Linked DNA regions of Homo sapiens. The protein of the gene in region 2 interacts with the protein of the main gene of each other region in a biochemical or structural test. Each region holds a gene or a part of one and is shown on either strand. Other genes may lie near its edges. The genes, in order: TRIM31, SYK, CD72 and HDAC9.

The links.
Region 1: the proteins of SYK (region 2) and TRIM31 form a complex in vitro, tested with the Homo sapiens proteins (one study listed by BioGRID).
Region 3: of the proteins of SYK (region 2) and CD72, one has a biochemical effect on the other in vitro, tested with the Homo sapiens proteins (one study listed by BioGRID).
Region 4: the proteins of SYK (region 2) and HDAC9 form a complex in vitro, tested with the Homo sapiens proteins (one study listed by BioGRID).

Annotation. Positions count from the first base shown.
Region 1 is NC_000006.12:30,105,782-30,111,276, forward strand, and holds part of TRIM31 (E3 ubiquitin-protein ligase TRIM31), read right to left. Parts: intron 4,898-5,495; coding exon 4,667-4,897; intron 3,268-4,666; coding exon 3,245-3,267; intron 2,407-3,244; coding exon of another isoform or gene 2,388-2,406; coding exon 2,272-2,387; intron 2,007-2,271; exon of another isoform or gene 1,882-2,006; intron 1-1,881.
Region 2 is NC_000009.12:90,838,428-90,843,922, reverse strand, and holds part of SYK (tyrosine-protein kinase SYK), read right to left. Parts: intron 66-5,495; 5' UTR 25-65; coding exon 1-24. UniProt on the Homo sapiens protein: Non-receptor tyrosine kinase which mediates signal transduction downstream of a variety of transmembrane receptors including classical immunoreceptors like the B-cell receptor (BCR).
Region 3 is NC_000009.12:35,611,059-35,616,019, forward strand, and holds part of CD72 (B-cell differentiation antigen CD72), read right to left. Parts: coding exon 4,885-4,961; intron 1,936-4,884; coding exon 1,790-1,935; intron 862-1,789; coding exon 746-861; intron 1-745. UniProt on the Homo sapiens protein: Co-receptor of B cell receptor (BCR) that plays both positive and negative roles on B-cell functions. Recognizes the Sm/ribonucleoprotein (RNP) self-antigen ligand, and coligation of CD72 and BCR inhibits BCR signaling.
Region 4 is NC_000007.14:18,648,351-18,653,845, forward strand, and holds part of HDAC9 (histone deacetylase 9), read left to right. Parts: intron 1-115; coding exon 116-333; intron 334-4,779; exon of another isoform or gene 4,780-4,886; intron 4,887-5,495. UniProt on the Homo sapiens protein: Responsible for the deacetylation of lysine residues on the N-terminal part of the core histones (H2A, H2B, H3 and H4).

The DNA.
Region 1 (5,495 bases), on a different chromosome or scaffold from region 2:
TCTCACTGCCTGACAAAGGTAGGTGCTCAGGACAAAGAGTGCCTTGAGGCTTCACCCTTTAGCTTCAGAAGGCCTACTGTAGGGCTAACCACCCAGGAGCCAGGTGGGGTAAGGGGGGGCCCCACTCTCCTAAAGCCTGGATGGCAGTCCTGCCCTCTTTCCCATGAAAGAGGGCTTGAGAGGGGGAACGAAGACAGAGCTCCTGCAAGGGGAGGCCGAGTGCCTTCATCTCCCAGTTCACCCCTGCCAGAAGAGACTCCTTTTGCAGGTAGAGGATGAGCCCAGAAGCTGGGGACAATGGCCCATTCCTGGCCTAGATTTCCTGTAGGGGTGCTGGACTGAGTGGAGAACTATAGGGTGGAGCCCCTAGATGGGGAGCTACTTCTGGCCCCAGCACCCTTCCCCCAGTGTCTTGCAGCCCCAAGACAGCACAAGACAGCCTGGGGCTAGGTAGTGGGACAAGCGTGGGTAGCTTCCCTGAGAGCCACCAGCCCAGTCATGGGGACTGCTCAGGGGAGACGCGGGGGCCCTCTTAGGAGGGGTCTGCAAACCTAGAGCATAGGAAACACTGCCTGGGAGCACTTCACCTACAAGGGCCTTTAGCGGCTTCAGGGCCCAGCCACACCCTTCTCCACGTACGTGTTCCAGACCCAGTCACCCCGAGCAGGGAGAACCAACCCTCATAATAAGAACTGTGGAGATTGGACCTGTGGTATAAGTAGACTCCCTACCACCTCCTGTATTTCCTAGGCTTTAATAGGGCCAGGTGGCCATTGTGCCTTCTTCTTTGGGGTAAAAATAAAATAAAAATAAGAGAAAAAAAAAAGAAGGAAATAGGGCCAGGTGGGAGTTGGGGGACTGTGTGTGTGTGAGTTTGTGTATGTGAAAGAGGGAAAGAAAAGGGGGATACAGAGTAGAGCACACCAGTCTCCCCAACTCCAAACCTGATGAAGTGGAAAGGGCTGGGCTCCTTTATTGAAATTCCAAACTAGAACCAAACTATTCTTGACCTGAAGAGCCTAGAAAGGTGCTGGATCGGGCTGGACGTGGTGGCTCACGCCTGTAATCCCAGCACTTTGGGAGGCTGAGGCGGGTGGATCACAAGTCAGCAGTTCGAGACCAGCTTGACCAACCTGGTGAAACCCCGTCTCTACTAAAAATACAAAAAACTAGCTGGGCATGGTGGTGTGCGCCTGTAACACCAGCGACTTGGGAAGCTGAGGCAGGAGAATCGCTTGAAACCAGAAGGCGGAGGTTGCAGTGAGCCGAGATTGCGCCACTGCACTCTATCCTGGGCAATAAGAGCAAAACTCCATCAAAAATAAATAAATAAATAAACAAATAAATAAAGTTGCTAGATCGGCTGAGATCATGCCCAGTGGGGTGGGAGGAGCTAGACAAAGCAGAGCAGTTAGTGGACAAAAGAAAAGCTCAGACAACAAAATTAAGAATAAAACAAAACATGCTTTCCTGTTTATGTCTGCCGAGTGGAGATTCCCGGCTGAATGGGTGGAGATCTTGGGGCATTGCCCTGGTCCTCCTTTTCCGTAGTCCCAAGGGGAAGTGTTTGTGTATGGGGGGCTGGGGGTTGGGGTGGGGGAGGTGGGTGTGGAACTCCAGGTGATAATTTCAGAAGATTCCATCTAGCTGTCTTTATGCCCACCTTAGACCAACACAGTCTTCACATTAAGGGGAGTCCTTACAAATACTAACCCTTCTTCCTAGTTGCAAACACAGAAAGGTTTATGAAAAATATCTGGCGAACATCTAAAACCCAAGTCATCCACTACTGTTCTGCTGATTTCTGTTTCCCTGTAAGGCTGGAAGAGGTTTCTCCCCAGAATGTCACTGATTTTGAATTTATTTTCTCTTCTTCTGTAGGCAGGAGGAGACACCAGTGTGCACCAGAGAAGGAGAAGTCAGAGATGACAGTCCCTGCCTGAGGCCATCTCTGGTCCACCAGACAACTCATCACCAACTTCCCAACAGCCACTGCTCTAGGCCAGGTGTCCACATGGGGAATAGGTCCAGGCCCTCTATGGCTCTCGCAGGAGTCAGGGAGGCAGATAAATAACATATCACAAAGACAGAATATAAGAAATGCCTGGGAGGAGGCATACTGATGCGTGGAAAGTACTCAGCCAGAAGCCTGGCACTAGAAGGGCCCAGGGATTGTTGGCATGTATGAGTCACAGTTCCATTTCAGTGGAGTGAGCAGGGAGAGAATCTCCTGGAAGTAGGTGAATAGAGAAAATACAGCCTCTTCCTTACCTTTGAATTTTTTTAGGCTCCCTGTGATGGAGTCATGTCTTGATTTTGCTTCACTGAGTTTTTTCTCCAGTTCCAGAGGAACAGGGGTTGGGTTGAGAAACTGAAACTCTTCACTTCTAGGAAGATGTGGTTGAGCTGGTTGGTGAGATCAGGGGATGAGGTGTGGGAGAAGGAGGATCTGAGATACGCGGTTGAGAAATGAGGGGATGAAGACCTGGGGGTAGAACTGAGAGCAGTGGCTCACACCTGTAATCCCAGCACTTTGGGAGGCTGAGGCGGGTGGATCACCTGAGGTCAGGAGTTCAAGACTAGCCTGGCCAACATGGTAAAACCTGGTCTCTACTAAAAATATGAAAATTAGCCAGGCTTGGTGGCAAGCGCCTGTAGTCTCAGCTACTTGGGAGGCTGAGGCAGGAGAATCACTTGAACCTGGGAGACAAAGGTTGCAGTGAGCTGAGATTGCACCACTGCACTCCAGCCTGAGCAACAAGAGCAAAGCTCCATCTCAAAAAAAAAAAAAAAAAAAAAAAAAGAAGACCTGGCGGTTAAGGGATAGTGAGCTGGGAGTCAGAAAGTCAGGGCTAGGGATATGGGGCGGGAGTGAGGTAGGGCATAGGGAGATATGGAAATGAAGATGGGAGATGGAGACAGAGAGGAGGGAAAAAAACAGGGTCAGGGAGACAGAGTAGGGGACCCAGGAGCTATTCAGTTGAGCAAGGGGGCATTCAGGAAATAGTAGAATCTGTGCTGAAGAAGGAGGAAGGCTGAGAAAACAGCTGGTTTCTTTAACAACCAACCACGTGCTAATATGGTTGGCATAGGCATTCCCCGGCTGCAGCCTAAATGTATGAATGCAGAGTTAGAGGTGGGTGGGTATTTCTGAGAGAGGAATGTTGACTGCATTTGGATATACGCTGAGAATTGTGTGTGGATGAATCAGTAGGCAAAATACATTTGGGGTGGCCCATCATACCTGCACAAGACGACTTTGATATCCTAGAAGAGAAAGAGAAACAGCACAGCCTCAGCACTTGGCTGATTCCCAGGAGCCAAGGAGGAGATACAGAGCCTGCTGGGTGTGGGGCAGAGCAGGAGGAGTAAGAACCCCTCCAAGTCTCTCTTACCCCATCCTCCTCCCCTCTCCCCACCACGAAGGGCTTCTCCAAGAAGCACTGCTCTGCCAGTAAGCAGAAAAGTGTTTTGACCTCAAGAAGAACTGAGTGAAGAAGAGAAGAGTGAGATTTAGAAGATGAATTTGGCTCTGAGACTGAACAAGGGAGCCTGCTAGCCAGGGCAGGAGAAAGGCTAGAATGGCTTTGCATGATCTTTCTTAAAATAAATAAATAGGTTTTTGAACCTGTGGGAGAATAGATGACTTGAGGAGGAATCATCTCAGCTTATTTTAAGCACCAGCTAGACTTGCACTGTCCAATATGGTAGCCACCAACCACATGTGGCTACTGAACATTGGAAATTGTGGCTAGTGTGACAAAGAACTGAATTTTTAATTTCATTTTTACTAATTCAAATTTAAATTAAAAATAGAGGCCAGGCACGGTGGTTCACGCCTGTAATCCCAGCACTTTGGGAGGCTGAGGTGGGCAGATCACTTGAGGTCAGGAGTTCGAGACCATCCTGGCCAACATGGTAAAACCCCGTGTCTGCTAAGAATACAAAAATTAGCTGGGCGTGGTGGTGGGGACCTGTAATCCCAGCTACTTGGGACTTGGGCCTAGGAGGCGGAAGTTGTAGTGCGCCAAAATCGCGCCACTGTACTCCAGCCTGGGCAACAGAGCAAGATTCCATCTCAAAAAATAAAATAAAATAAATAGAAGAAGGGTAAAGTACTTTTTCCATTAAACACAACTTTATTGATTTGGTAAGACTATATTTTACTTTAACAATTGACAATTTAGCATCTGAATTGAGATGTGCCAAAGTGAAAAATATACACACAATTTCAAAGACTCAGTGTAAAAAAAAAAAAAAAAAAAACCACCAAAAACCCAGAATGTGAAATATCTCATTAATACTTTTAAAATATTCATTACAGGCTGAAAGGATAATATTTCAGATATATTGAGTTAAAATATTTTATTAAAATTAATTTCACTTTTATCATTTTAATGTGACTAACTAGAAAAATTTGTAATTCCATATGTGGCTGAAACTACATTTCTAAATCACACATGTGGCCAGAATTATATTTATGAATTACATATGTGGCTCACATTTTCATTCTAATACATGCGGCTCACATATTGCTATTGGACAGCACTGGGCTAGAGGTAGGATGGTTGGGGCAATCTCAGGTATTCTGCCAGTGGTCCATGCTCTGACCTGAGACTAGGGATGGGCTGCTACCTCTCTGCAATTCTGCCCCCAAGGGACTCACCTCCAGCAGCTGCCTGGGTGGCATGTTCTGCTTGGTCTTCAGGGAATCAACGAGCTTCTTGAGATCGTTCAACTGTGGCTCAGTGGAGGCAACATAGTGTTTCCCCGCTTCCGTTCCCTCATGACCCAGCCAGTAAATCCGTGATAGCAGGAAATTCTTCTCCTCCTCTAGGACTTGATGCAGGAGTTCAAATTCTGTGAGGATCCTTTGCTTCTCATGTTCTACCTGGTCCTAAGAAACAGGGACAGGCAGAGGGTGAGAGGATGGCCTCGAAGGTCCTTCTAGCCCACTTTATTCAGCCATTAATTTTATTAAGTTTGTGTGGAATTCCCAACCAGAGCAATGTGCCAGGGCAGACCTGGAAGAAAGGAAAGGAGAGGAGAACAAACTTCTAAAAGCACCTACTACGTGCTCAGCTTTAAGCGAAATTATTAATTTATGGTTTACCACTTGCCTTCAAGGAACTGTCTAATACAATTCCAGAAGGCTTTTCAGTTTATAATCTTTCATATAGATTTTATTCCTTTCACGCACACAGGAAAATAGGTAAGTGGGGTCACAATGTCTTCATTTTCCTTCTGTCTTTTTTTTTTTTTTTTTTTGAGACAGTCTCTCACTCTGTCACTCAGGCTGGAGTGCAGTGCACGATCACGGCTCACTGCAGCCTCATCCTCCCAGGCTCAAACAATACTTTCACCTCCCAGCCTCTCTAGTAGCTGGGACTACAGGCGTGTGCTACCACGCCCGGCTAGTTTTCTTTCTTTTTTTTTTTAATTAAGAGGAGAGTCTCGCTATGTTGCCCAGGCTGGTCTCAAACTCCTGGGCTCAA
Region 2 (5,495 bases):
GTCAGCCATGCCGCTGCTGGCCATGCTTCAGGGGCCGGAGGGCACACACCTGCGCAGGTGTCCACCTGGGCAAGACAGAGACAGAGAACTTTGGTGAGGACCCCACGTGGCAGGGAACGTTTGCTAAAACCACTCAAACCCTTTCAAAGTGGAGACAAACCCTCCCATCTCTGAACAAAGGCACTTCCCTCTTTGGCCCTCCCAACACACAGTTGTCTTTCTGTTCACATCATCATTACAGTTTTCAGCATGCCTTCTAACTAAGCTAAAATCAGAGCATTTGATGGAAGTGACCAAATTAAATAATTCTTTTTTGGGGGGAGTGGGGAAAGACAAAGAATTCTAAAAATAAACATACCGCAAAGAGAAGCAAACAGAAGGGCTATTGCAAAACAGGACTCTTGGGCTGACCCTCAGGGTCCCAGCAGCATACAGGAGGCAGAATCTACATGAGAACAAACCAACTGCTCCTCCTGAGTCCAGACAATGTTAGAGAAGCCTTGCTCCTCATCACAGTGATATTACCAAGGAGGACGCTACCACCACCTCACCCACCTGAGCTGCGAGACGCTGCCTCGAGCAGTCAGTCACACGCTGGTGCTGAGCCCCAGAGGTGAAGTGAGGCCACGTTGAGGGCCCACACGGAACTGTGACTTGTGGTCACCATAAGGCCTTCCCACCTCCAGCCCGGGGCTATGATAGCAACAAGCCACTGCCTGAGACATGAAGAGTGACACCCTCCCTGGCTCCCGAGGCCTGGGGCCCATAGGCTGTCTTCTCCCCGCTTCTCCAGACCACTTCCTGGGCAACGCCACTTCCCATCTGCAGGGCCCGTGCTAAAGAGATAGTGCCGGTTCCCAGCCCACGAGGACATCTGACACAGGAGAGACACTGCTTGCAGTAAATAAATACATTTCAGAAGCAAAAAGAAAGGCGGCCAATGCATATTTAACATGGAGAGTATTCCCTCTCAATCATGGTTGTAAACTAGAAGGATACATATTGCCAGCCCCAAAAGTATCCAAGGAGGCACATTTTAACCAAAAGGGGCTGGTCGTGAATGGAAAATTATCTACATGACTCCATCCATTTATCCAGGGAGCAAAGCGCATGTCCCTCATGGTACACACACACACACACACACACACACACACACACACACACTCTCTCCATACCACATGCACACTACATGCATGCCACACACACTATGAACACATGCCACACCTGCACTACACACACACCATGTACTACATGCACACTATGCACATCACACACACCAAACACACAAACTACATACATACCACACACACGAAACACACTACACACATCACATGCTACACTACATACATGCTACACACACAAAACAGACATGAAACACACCACTGCATGCACACAACACACATCACACACACTACCCCACACACATACACATACACACAAACTACATACACACCACACACATGAAACACACCGCACACACCAAATTCTACGTTACATACACACAAAACACACATGAAACACACCACATGACTACATGCGCACTACACACATCACATACGGTACACCACACACCACACACATCACATACACTACACCACACACACACACTCCATACCACATGGACACTACATGCATGCCACACACACTACGAACACATGCCACAGCTGCACTACACACACACCATGCACTACACGCACACTATGCACATCACACACACACCACACACACAAACTACATACACACCACACACACAACACACTACAAACAACACACACTGCACACACAACACAAATTACATACATACCACATACAACACACTACACACACTACACACACCATGTACTACATGGACACTACACACATCACACACACCAACTACACGTACACCACACACACAACACACTACACATATCACACACTGCACACACAACACACAAAAACTACATACACTCCACATACAACACACTACACACACCACACACACTACACACACCATGTACTACACGGACACTACCCACATCACACACACCACAGACTACATACACACTACACACACAACACACATAACACACTGCACACACAACACACAAACTACATACACACCACATACAACACACTACACACATAACACACTACACACACCATGTACTACACACATCACATACACCACACACACAAAATACATACACACCACACACAGTACACACTACACACATCACACATACTACACACATATCACACACAAACTACATACACACCACACACCATACTAAACACATGCTACACTACATACACACTACACACACAAAACACACACGAAACACACCACACAACTACATGCACACTACACACATCACACACACTACACCACACACATACACCCCCATACTACATGCCCACTACATGCATGCCACACATATGGACACATACCACACATGCACTAAACGCACACCACACACACACAAACTACATACACACTACACACACAACACACTACACACATCTTACACACACTGCACACGTCATACACAAACTACACACACACTGCACACATACTACACACAGTATACACAAACTACATACACAGTACACACAACACACTACGTGCAGCACACAAACTACATACACATTACACACATAACACAGTACACACCCACACACACTGCAAACACACCACACACACAAACTACATACACACGACACACAACACACTACATGCAACACACATACTACACACTACACATAAAAACACACACAAACCACACCACATCACTACATGCACACTACACACATCACACACACTGCACACACACCACACACAAACTACATACATGCCACACACACACCATAGTACACACAACTAACACTACACTACATACACACTACACACACAAAACACACACATGAAGCACACCACACCACAGATCCTGCACCACGATGATGTGAAGCGGCTTCTTCTCAACATGCACTATCCTACAAGGGGCTATAAAATGTAAGAGCATCAGCCTGACACAGGCGACAGAGTTTTCCCCAGACGGTGTCTATCCACAAGTCAGTACTCCTGGGCGAGCCCCTAATGAGGCATGGGTTTTATTATAATTTGAGGGTATTAATCATCATTTCCTGGCTTGCCTCTCACAGCAGTTGACTATCAATGACTTTTCTTTGTCCAACAAGTTTCTAAAAATTCATCTCTTAGCAAGGTGTTTTTGTTTTTTAAAGTATATCTACATTTACTTTTGAGTCTAAGAATGCTGTTAACAGAAAGACATCTCTGGAAACACAGTGTGCTGATGAGTCTCTTGGAAGAAATACTTCTCTTTGGACTGCTTTCCCCTTTCTACAGTTTTTTTTTTTTTTTTTTTTTTAGAAGAGACGGGGTTTCACCGCATTAGCCAGGATGGTCGCGATCTCCTGACCTCATGATCTGCCCGCCTTGGCCGGGCGCGGTGGCTCACGCCTGCATTCTACAATGCTTTTGTTGCAGGCCAGCCACTGCCCCCAGCCTGCTTTTCCCCCACTCCACCCTTTTCCTGCAGTGGGTCTTCTCGGGCCTCCAACCTCATTTCCATTGTTTCCCCTGCAGCCCAGCACGTCTCATACTTCCACGTGGCCTGGGGGCTCTGACACACCCAGGGCCTGAGACGCTGCTGCTCCTGCAATCCTGGTGATGCGGATGCTGGGTTCTGATGCCACCTGAGACCAGGTTCTCCATCTTCTCTGCCTTCCCTGCCCAGGCGGTGTCCCAGCCAGGAACCCAGGAGTCCTCCGCAGGACTTGCGTTCTCTAAGGTTCGTTTTCCAGGCGCCCTTGGTGCATGTTCCTTACTGCCCATATCCATGACCACTGCTTGGCGTAACCCTGTCCTTTCCACTGCTGCCCTTCACTCCTCACCTTCTGCCCTCCTGCTTCCTGACGCCTCCCTCTCCAGCTGCCCGGTCCTCCCTCAAAGCGCACATCAGCCCTTCCTGCCTATTCCAACATGCCCAGTCCACAGACCACACTGGACTGCACCGGGATGCTGTGGCTTTCCCTTCTTGTTCTCACCACGTGTGCTTTCTGCTGAGGCGTGCAGCTCTTCCTCCCAGCCATCTCAGTCATCCTTACAGACCCAGCTCAAATACCCCTGTCACTGTGTACCTGGCCCCGATGCTTGTGTCCCCTCTGCAGGGCCCAGGTTACTTTTTATGTAGTTGCAGAACAGCAGACTGCACCATCAGCTCAAACTGAGACAGTAACTTTGTAGGAACAAAATTTTAAATAAAATGAGAGCAAATACTTTTTAATTCATATAAATCTTAACATAGCTACTATTTTAAAAATTCATTGGCTTGTCACTAATCATTACATCGGTGCTGGCACTTGGGCATGAATCCCATATTGAAGTGAATGGAAAGGAAGTGAGACAGGCTGTGGTCGGGTCTTGGGGAGCATCTGCAGACCCGGAGCAACCTCCAGGCACACGCCAGGGACACTCTGTGTGGCTTTGATGGTGCATTGCAGATATGTTCGCAAGCAGGTGGCAGAAGAATGTGCTGCACTCAGTGTCAGCACCGATGTGGCTGATGGCCCTTTTCTGGCCATGTGACTTCCTGTGCCGGAGTTGACCTGGGTATGTTGGTGGTGATGGTTTGGGCAGAATCACTGGTTCACTGCAAGGACAGCTTATGGCACATTTTTGGGCTACTTAATTGGGGGAATAAACAATGTCCATGGTGTTCCTGTGCATACCTTCTCAGGACTGGCACCCACCGGCACCCACCCGGGGCCTTGTCCTGGTCTCCAACCTCCTCTTTCTCAGGCCACCTTGGCAGGAAATGGCCATCTCCATTCCAGTCACTGCCCACAGTGGCCCAGGCTGCTGTTCTCAGCTCCACTTTTCAGATATCAGCTTTCAGTCAGTATGGCAAATCCAGAGAGTCTCACTTTTCACCCAGCGTAGTCTTGGCCACGGCTGTGGCATCTCTGCCACCCCCACCAACTGAGACAGGGACGGAGCCCGTGACTTTCCCCTGCAGGCATTCCTCCTGCACACACAGACTCAGTCCTTCCCGCCTGATGCTTTTGCCAACTCACAATGCTTAACTCTGACTACAGGAACAGCTCATGGCTCAAATTCTCTTTAGCATTCCCAGGGATCATTTTCTTCCAAATAGTGTTTAGAACTTGCTCCCTATTTTTTCTTAATTCAACATTCCCAGTTATTTTTTTCCATGTGTGACACTACTTCATTCCAAAGCACGAAACTGAGAAACAAACCAGGCCACTTAGCTCCTCCTTAACTCCACCTGTACCCCTCAGCCTGCTGGGTCTGGCACCTCAGTGAACACCTGGGCAGGTAGTGGTTCAGCAAGGAGGGTTTTCAGGTGTCTGGTGAGCTCCTGAAAACACTGCAAATCCCTTGCTCTTTTGAGACCTTTTTTGTGACACAAGTTAAATGTGCACTTAGTTGTAGAAAAATGTTTTTTGACATGAAATAATCTTCTGTAATGTCC
Region 3 (4,961 bases), about 55 Mb from region 2:
GACTAACACGGTGAAACCCCGTCTCTACTAAAAATACAAAAAATTAGCCGGGCATGGCGGTGTGCGCCTGTAGTCCCAGCTGCTGGGGAGGCTGAGGCAGGAGAATGGTGTGAACCCCTGAGGCGGAGCTTGCAGTGAGCTGAGATTGCACCACTGCACTCCAGTCTGGGCGACAGAGCGAGACTCCATCTCAAAAAAAAAAAAAAGATGGGAAGGCCAATTGAGGAACATAAGGAGGTTGCCACCCTGTTTCAGGGTCCCTAGGGTTGATCCTCAATGGTACCCCACTGCTGTCTTGATCACAGTGAAGTGGAGCTTCGATGGTACCCCCGCTGCTCCCTTGCGTACTTCACTGAGGCAGCTCTAGTGCCCCAAGTGGCCGCTACTGAGAAAGTACAACCTCAGTTTGGGTGGCCTTCTCGAAGGATGGAGAAACGCTGCTGTCATCAGCTGTGGAGCCTTAACTAAATCCTTAATGTCTCCCCCTAAAAGATAGCGTAGGTCCCAACCTAGTAGTTACTGAAACAAAAAAGTATGTGCCAGGGACTTCTAGGTGGAAATAGAATGGAGAATAAGATTGCCCTAAGAAGTTATTAATCAAATAGAGGAAACAGACAAATAGGCAATTACAGTGTTGATTTATGGGAGAGTCCTGAGGGGACCAGGTGGGAAGGAAATCTGATTACCATGTCTTTATGGAGGGGATTATGGAGTTGAAAATACCCAGAAGTCCTAACAAACTTACCTAGTGCGTTGTGTATCATCAGTCAACTTCCAATCCTTGTTAGAGCTGAGGCCAGTCCAATATGAATTCCCTGAACCACCATTTGGCAACAGTGAATTTAAGAAGTAGTAAGAGTGCTGAGGGGAGATTCAGAGAGACCAGAGATACATGGAGAGTGATGAGAAATATGGAAGAAAATGCACACCCTAGGGAGGCCTCAGCTTTGGCAAGGGGGCTGTATATATGACAGCTCTTTGGTAACTTGTCCCTGAATCCATCAAGTGCCACCCTGCAGATGCAGGCTCACTGCTAAATTTGCCTTCCAGCTGAGTAAGAATCTCTGCCAGCCTTTGGAGGGGAGTCATTCTGTGTGCTGTTCTGGCCCCAAGGAACTAATCCCTACAATCCAGCCCACCAGGTGTGGGACCTCTCTGCCTGAGAGGCCACAAGAGTCCAGGAACCTGTCAAGCAGCCCAGGGAGCTGACCAGCAAGCTGAGATGAGATACACATTAAAGTAGAGGCCGGGCGCAGTGGTTCACACCTATAATCCCAGCACTTTGGGAGACTGAAGCAGGTGGATCACCTGAGGCCAGGAGTTAGAGACCAGCCTGACCAATATGGTGAAACCCCGACTCTATTAAAAATACAAAAATTAGCTGGGCGTGGTGGCATGTGACTGTAGTCCCAGCTACTCAGGAGGCTGAGACGGGAGAATTGCATGAACCCAGGAGGCGGAGGTTGCAGTGAGCTGAGATTATGCAAGTGCACTCCAGCCTGGGTGACAGAGTGAGACTCTGTCTCAAAAAAAAAAAAATGTAGATATGGTTAAGTTTCCATTCTCATGCCAACTCTAATCAGTTACTAGGGGCTGCCTGGACCACTGTGCTGAGAAGATGCAGAGGTTGTTTCCAAGCTCAGAGGTCAAGAGTATTATGATTCTCAGTTTCTTCCATGGAAAAGGAATGGCCACCCCAGCCATGTGTGCACTGCCATTCCTGACTTGATGACATATGTCCCTTTACCTAATAGTACCCACTGCAGTCTGTGAGTAAGGATATGCTTACTGATTGTGGATAAATTTCACTGAATGTGGCCAGCTTGGAAGACAGAGTTTCACATTGTTTTTGGCTCTCCTGCCAATTTTTTGAAGTAAGTGAGATGTAAAAGCAGCTTTTCTGATGCATTATCCATCCCGACGGACAGCAGGTGTCTAAAAAGCAGAAAGAGTGTGATAGCAGCAACAGTTGGGATGAAAGTGACTACTCAGCAATCTTTTGCTAACAATATTCCCCCAGAGCTAATCTCAGCACCTTCATGGACTTCTATGATCTTTGCAATCTTTCTTTTGCATCCCCTGGAAACACCATACCTGTCCTTACTTAGTAAAAAGACTTTAACATTCAACAACATTACTTCTTAGCAATCTGGGAGGTCTGTCTTAATAGGGCTGATTTTATTACCCCAATTTCTGAACAATTGCAGTCCACCCTGACACTTTACCTAACATCTCTTGGGCCCATCTCCTCCACTCCCTAAAGCACCCCTCACTGCACATCCTCCACTCCTCCAGCACTGGCCCCCTCCGTCCCTCTCCAATTTCCTACAAGCAGAAAATGTTGTGTACTGTTTTGCAGAAACTGAGCTCTCTCCTTTTCCCTCCTCTCCACCTCAAAATTTCTCTTCTCTGTTCTTCTTTTCCTGACTATCCATAAGAAATAAATATCCCTCTTTCTTCAACATCCTACATCCCAATGTGCACTTCTGATCCCAGGCCACCTCTCTCCATTGCTTTGTTCCATCAGTCCTACCTTCATCACTCAAAAATCATTCCCTCTCCACTAGCTCCCTCTCTTCTCTCTACATATGCTCATGTCCCCACCCTGCTACTCCCTTGAGCTACTGTCCTATGGCAACTTAAAGGAATAAAAAGAAATCCCTGCTGGGCACAATGGCTCACTTCTGTAATCCCAGCACTTTGGGAGGCCGAGGCGGGGTGGATCACCTGAAGTCAGGAGTTTAAGACCAGCCTGGTCAACATGGTGAAACCCCACCTCTACTAAAAATACCAAAAAATACCCAGGCACCATGGCGCATGCCTATAATCCCAGTTACTCGGGAGGCTGAGGCAAAAGGATAGCTTGAATCCAGGAGGCAGAGGTTGCAGTGAGCCCAGATCACACCACTGCACTCCAGCCTGGGAGTGCACTTCAGTCTCACAGAGCGAGACTCCGCCTCAAAAAAAAAAAAAAAGAAATCTGTATGGCCAAATGGAAGAGGGTGAGGAGATAAGTGGCACACTGAAAGGTAGGCAGGAGTGATGGAAGCCATGTTAAGGATTTTTATTTTTATATTATGAGGAAGAGAAAGTCAGTGTAGGGTTTTACATAGAGGAATTTTGTTCACTAGCTATATCCCAAGTGCCTGGGCACAGTGCTAGAACATATTATATGTTATGTATTCCATAACTGTTTATGTAATCAATTAACTGGAATGCTGTAGATTGGGTGACACGATCAGATTTTTGTTTGTAAAAGATTACCCTGGCTCCAATATGAAGAATGGACTGCAGGGAGAGGAGTGAGTAGGAAAAACATTTAGAAAGCTGTTGCAGATATCCTTGCAAAAGATGAGGATGGGCAAAAATCCATATGGATATATAGACTTGGTGATGGAAAGTGAAGGGAATTCCTCTCTGAAAGAGTGGAAGATGAGGACATCTGCTGAAAGTGAGGGAGAAGGAGTTACTATGGAGAGCAAGCTGACCATTGCAAAGGTTGCCAGGCAGTGCTGAGAGACTAGAGTCTCAGTGGCACTGAGCAGAATGATTCCACAATTTGTCACACCTTGATGCTGACCATGGGCAGTTGGGTTCATCCAGAGTTCAAATTTTGCCCATCAGGTACACTAGAAGGATAATGGAACAAAGAAGTGAGTGAGCCAGGTGCGGTGGCTCACGACTGTAATCTCAGCACTTTGGGAGGCTGAGGCAGGAGGATCGCTTGAGTCCAGGAGTTCGATACCGGCCAGGGAAACATAGTGAGACCTTGTCTCTATTTAAAAAAATAAGTGAGTAGTTGAAGTGATGGGCTCCAAACCCATGTTAGGTAGGGAGAGAAGTGTGGACAGGAGAAGCTGATGGGAAGAGAGAAAAAGGGGAATCAGTTGATTGGAGGCCTGGACTGATGGGAAGGGAGAAAAAGGGGAGTCAGCAGATTGGAGGCCTTGATGAGATCAAAAAAGTGTGGGGAAAACCTGCAGGAGTGGTGGGCAGCTGTGATCAGAGTGGAAGTCTGAAACCATCCTTTCGCCGGAAGAGCAATTTGGGAGGTAGAGGTCTAACATGCTGCTAAGAGCAGCCCTGGCATGGAACTGATGGTCACAGAGGGTAAGGTTAAGGAAATGAGGGCAAGGGGTGTCTGCACATAATCTTGCTGTCTTATGCCTGGGGAGATCACCCAGATGACCCCCAAGCTAGACAGAGCCTAAACCTGATCATAGCCCAAAAACACCCCAGTCCCCTTAGGCGTGGCACCTTGCCTAGACCCTCAGCCTGTTTTGATACAGCCTTGCCTCTTTTATGTGTCCCTTTCCCCATCTCCACTTACTGGCTGGGGTCCTGCTTTCAAAATGAATGGACACCCCATCCTAGTTCCCTACACCACAACTCCCAGCTCCACCTCACTGTGAGTGCTGAGCGCCTCACTGCCTTGCCCCACCACCAGGTTGCACTCCATGTCAGCCAGTAAGTCTTACCCTTTGGGGAGATCTCAGCTATAACGAAAATTAATTAAAAATGAGGTCCCTGTCTTTAGAAAGATGTGCAAACCGCCAAGTTCACATCCAAATTTGGGGGCGTTCCCAGATCCTTGTCACTGATATCAACCGGAAGAAACCTTGGACAGTGTGATTTGGACTGCTGGCTGCCATCCTCCTCTCCCCTACAGGATGAGCCTTGGAGCTGGGTGGGTCCCCCTAAATCTAGTATGCAGCTTGGTCCTTCTCTCTGTTGGCCAAGGCTGAACAGCTCATGTCAGCCACCACTCTGGTTCACTGCCCCTTTCCTGAACACCTCACAGGCCCCTGGGTGATAGACTCCTGCCACTACTATCTCCTTGCTCCAATCCATCCCTCCCTTCTCTCCTCTCCCCAGAGCGGATACCTGCTGAGCCGCATGTGAAGAAGGGCTTCAGTCTGTTCTCCATGTTGCTCAGCTTCTGCTCCAAGGCCCTCCTCTGT
Region 4 (5,495 bases), on a different chromosome or scaffold from region 2:
TATACCATGTATCTGTTTTCTTTGGCTTCTTATCTTTTCTTAAAATTGTGTGTGTGTGTATGTGTGTGTGTGTGTGTGTGTGTATACACACATATACATGTATTTTTTTTTTCAGGTGGAGTTCCCTTACATCCTCAGTCTCCCTTGGCAACAAAAGAGAGAATTTCACCTGGCATTAGAGGTACCCACAAATTGCCCCGTCACAGACCCCTGAACCGAACCCAGTCTGCACCTTTGCCTCAGAGCACGTTGGCTCAGCTGGTCATTCAACAGCAACACCAGCAATTCTTGGAGAAGCAGAAGCAATACCAGCAGCAGATCCACATGAACAAAGTAAGCCTCCAAGCCAAGTCAAAATGTTCTAACCGCCAGTTTGGAAATTGGGTATCTCTTCACTGATATGGGTGTCTAAGAGGAATGTTGATGGGAGTCACAGCAAAAAGGATGTGATCATCCTAAGCCTGCTTTCTTGGCTCAAGGACACCATCACAATATCAGTGTTTTAACCACCATTATGTTCATAAGACATTTGTAGCAAAATTGAGATGATACATTCACAAGATCTTTTTATGATCAGGTATATATTTTGGTACACAAGCCCATACGGGCATATGTATATGGAGCCTCATTTTTTAGTGTTGCAGAAAAAGTTTGAGGCAGACTTGAATGTGGTGTGTTGACATGTCAAAAAGTTTGTACAGGTGATGACAGATAGGCCAAGATTAGCCAGTAAGGCACTTCTCAGCAACTTGTATGCATCTACGTTACATTTATTTTGCGAATGCCCCACTTCATTCCAATAAGCGTTTGGAGTAGTTTCTCGGAAACTTGTGATCATTTCTTCCTGGAAGTCTTAATGTTGCTAAAATAGACAGCGGATGTCTGTACCGTACCACATCCTTAGGAGCTCTCCTGCTGAGGCAACTACAAAGAAACAGTGATTGCAGCATAATATCAGACAGGCCAGTAAAGGATTTTCTATGAATTCGTAAGCAAAATGATATTAAAGAACCTGGTCTGGACAGTTTTTCCACTACTTTTTGCTGTGGTAGGCTTAAAAAAGCACCATCTTCTCATTCCTGGAAAATTCCTGGAAAATATTAAGGTCCTGAGTATTAAAATTCTATTCCCTTGCCTTTGTGCTGTATCATCTACAAGTTATGTTACAGAGGCATGAGAGGCATGATATTGCAAACTGATACTTTGTTTACTGATAAATGGATAGCTAAAACCTGGCTTAGTAATAACTTTGTTGTACTATGATGTAAGAAACAAACAAAACAAAACAAAATAAACTCTCATGGGCAGAGGCTTAATCATCTTTCTAACGGCAGTAGGGGAAAGGGATCTTCATCACTTGCTGGTTTTATGGCAAGTGTTGCTGGAGTTTTTCTCTTCTTTTGGCCTCCATCGTAACAAGGGCAGAGCCATGAAGGAAGCATGGATTGGATACCATGCTTCCGAACAGAAAGTTTTCCAGCCTAGCCCTTCGCTACTCTCAAAGTAGCAAAAGTATGTGTGGGATTGGGGTGCTAGAGATGGGGTGGCTGGCAGGGACAACTCTCTCTCTAACCTTTTAGTATGCATTGCAGACCCTTTCTGTGTCATTAGATAATGCCTATTTTATTGCTGTAGCACTTCTCTAAATTTAGCAAATATTTCGGTTTCATATCAAATTATTTTATATCAAATCAGTATCTTCAGGAGAGAGCCAATTTCCTTCTCTGACTAATGGCATAATACTCACTGACTTGTATGTGACTCTGCATATGTTTTCTATATTATGGTAGAGTTAGGTTTGTTTATTTGTTTTGTGGCCTTTCAGCACAACTTAAAATTATTAGGTATTCTTGAAAAATTGTCCACTGTTTAGTGCAAGAAATGTATGTGGGAGGGAAGATTAGGGATCGTATTTTTTTGCCATATAGTGTTTTGATCTAGAATTAGGTTTGTTTATAAAACCAGTATTAGATAGTAGATAGACTTTTCTGCTATGCTTGGTTCTATTTCCTAGAAACACATGGATGTATATATTTTACTATGGTAAAGTAGGTAAATTACTCACTTTGAAATTGTGATCCACAAATGGTTTCTATGAATACCTTTAAGAATATTTTGGAATACAGTTTTTTATTAACTAATTGCCACTGTTTCAGATTCAGATGGTGTGCTAATATCAGAATCTTTCCTTTTCAGTATCAAACTCGAGATTTTGACAGGCGAATGCTAACCTCAGTCACACTGGATAAAACTCAGATGAAAAGCAGGCATTTGCATTTTAGCAATGAGAAAAGCAAATCTTATCAGAGACCTTTTCCCATGTGGAGCTGATTCCTTTGAATCTGTTAAGAATTCTTCCCAGAATTAGAAACAAACCTATACTTTTAGGTACATGTTTGTACAGTGGTTTGATTATTAAATCTTGTCTTAATTAGGCAAAATGAAGACCAGAAAACTTCAAAGTCCAAAGCTGATCTTTATATGTTAACCTCTCTCAGCTTGGGTGTTTAGATGACTCAAGCAGGTCGCCAGTTGGCTTTTCTCCAAGGATGTATTCCATATGTTTCATCAAGTTGGCATATTCACGTTGGGTATTCTCCAGATTTTGAAAATATTTTACCTGCCCTCAGTTGTCTAAGGGGACAGAGAGGAAGCTTATTAAAGAAAATATCAAACCCATGTCCTATCCTGAAATATTCACAATAGAACGCTTAAGAAGTGAGTGGCTACTGTTCACCTGCTTCCGTGACGTGACAAGGATGTTTATTTCACATTGGGTCAGATTCATAACTTAGATGCCCAAAGCTAACATGTTTCTGTATAATATATTGCTGTATACTTGATTTAACCATTTAGAATGCCCATTAGTAAGAAATCACCACAGAAATTTTATCATTTTTCCCCATTTCCATGGATGAACCTTTATGAAACCCATTCATACTGAAGCGATGGTCCTTACTCTTGAGATACTTATAGCAGGAAATACAGGCACACATGAAGATGTTGACATACAAATGACATATTTAAATATATCTTCTTTTATTTCCTTTTTATGATTCTTTTTTGAGGAATTTAGAGAAACAAAAAATGAAGTGGGAACAAGAAAATATAAGTAGGATTATTTCTAAACCTGTATCAGATTAAATATGATGGGCTTCCTGGTATAAAATTTGTAGTAATGTGTTTGAATTACTAATAATCTTTAGAAGAATTAGAAACAAAGCTATATAGTTTTAGGGGCATGGGTGATGCAAGGATTGACTTATTAAATTTGAAAGAGTTTTTCATATCTTGCTATTATTTTAATGTGTTTATAAAATATTCATGTTCAGTGTAACTACATAATGTAACTGTTATTAATCATACAAAATAATTTACCTACTTGTTGCCTTATACTTTAATATCATATTTGGGATATTTGTGGGATAGTTGTGTGTTCTAAGATTATTTGCCTCTTACAGTTACGGTGTAAGTGTTCAAGGGCTTAGCAGAAATATCCCTGGAATGGGCTTGTATAGTATTTATACTGTTATATCTGCCAGTAAATAATGGGGAAAGTCAGAAAGGAGAGTGCTGGGCTGGAGAGGAAACCCTGTGAGAATGATTTATCTCTGCTCATGAGTTTGAATATTCTATTTTTCACTGAAACTGTTTTGAGAAGTTTAATCATAAAGAAATCAAGGCTTACAACATTTGATCTTTTGTTTTCTGAGACATTTTACAAATCAGAAATGCATTAAACAGGTTCTATTGCTAATATATGGTATTAATATTTTTGTGCAATGATGTCATTGCACATTCATTTATATCATTTTTCCCCAATACCATGGAAGAACCTTTTCAAAAAATCAAGAGTTTCTTTATACCAGCATCAAGGGAAGACTGATGCTTTTGCCAGTACACCTTGCTTTTCTGATTGGAGGAAAAAAGAGTTTCTAAAGTAGAACTTCCCTCAAATACAAAATATCAAACAAAAAGTAATAAGGTATTGGTAATTTTCTCCTGGGCCCATTTCAAGTTTAAATATTACCACAGGATTTTTTTTCTGGTGAAATAAAACTGTAATTGATTAAAACAGAATACGTAACAGTTGTTTAGACATACTGATGATTTTAAAGAAGTATTCTAAGCACTGCCTAAAAAATAAAAGGGCAAATCTCTAGTCACTTCACTATTTGAATGATATATAGAAAATTTTCAAAATCTCTTTAGGCATTTTTGTTGTGAGGTAATTTGACATAGATCTCTGCCATGCCCCATCCCCTTGACAACATTATTCTTTATTTCTCTGTTATAGTATTAATAGAATTGCACTGATTCATGCCTAGCAGTTTCTATTTTAACTAGAATATTAATATCTTTATTAATATCTGTTTTTCATATTCATTCCATTAAATCCATAAGAGCAGGAATTTTAAGAAAATTCATACTTTGTTTAGTAGTTACTTTAATGAATTATTAATCTATGTATGGATGCGTTAAACAAATCATTAAATACTGTGTGCAGACACAGTTTTAAGCACTAAGAAAACAACCTTCAGTGTCCTCATGGAGCTTATAGGATGGGGAGCAGGAAGTGAATTATTGAAATAAACAGTAATACAGGCCGGGTGCAATGGCTCATGCCTGTAATCCCAGCACTCTGGGAGGCCGATGTGGGTGGATAAGCTGAGGTGGGGAGTTCGAGACCAGCCTGACCAACATGGAGAAACCCCGTCTCTACTAAAAATACAGAAAATTAGCCGGGCGTGGTGGTGCATGCCTGTAATCCCAGTTACTCAGGAGGCTGAGGCAGGAGAATCGCTTGAACCCAGGAGGCAGAGGTTGCAGTGAGCTGAGATCCTGCCATGGTGCTCCAAACCTGGGCCACAAGGGTGAAACTCCATCTCAAAAAAAAAAAAAAAAAACCAGTAATACAGTGTGTTAAGTATTAGGAAAGGAGACATAAGAAAGAAAACTGATATCTTTAAGGAAATAAAATTTGAGTTAATTACTTCTCTGGATTATCTTGTTCTTATTATATCTCACTCCCTTTCTTTTTCTTTCTTGCTTGCTCGCTTGTTCTCTTGCTTTCTTCCTTTCTTATATGCTCTGTGATAAATATCTTGTGCATTCCTATGACTGGCTATCAGCCAACACTTTTTTAAAAACTTACATAAATCATGAGATGATATCTTATATATGCCAAGGTTCGGTCTAGATATAAGTATTTATTATATATTTATTACTGTGATACTTAGGCATTTTGACATGAGTGCTATTTTATCATAATAAAAATATATCTAAGACAAGACCAGTAAATGTGAGGTCAAGCAGATGTACTGTGTTGCCCTTATTAAAACAGGTAGATGTTATGTTTATGTTCTGACAAGCAAGGCATGAATATAATTATGCTCAAATGCTGGATCTGAGCAAATGGAGAGCTTTCATTAGCTTTTGGAAGAGAATTTGACTGTTTATTTGAGTAGTATCTGTATTATTCCTTTTTTGACATA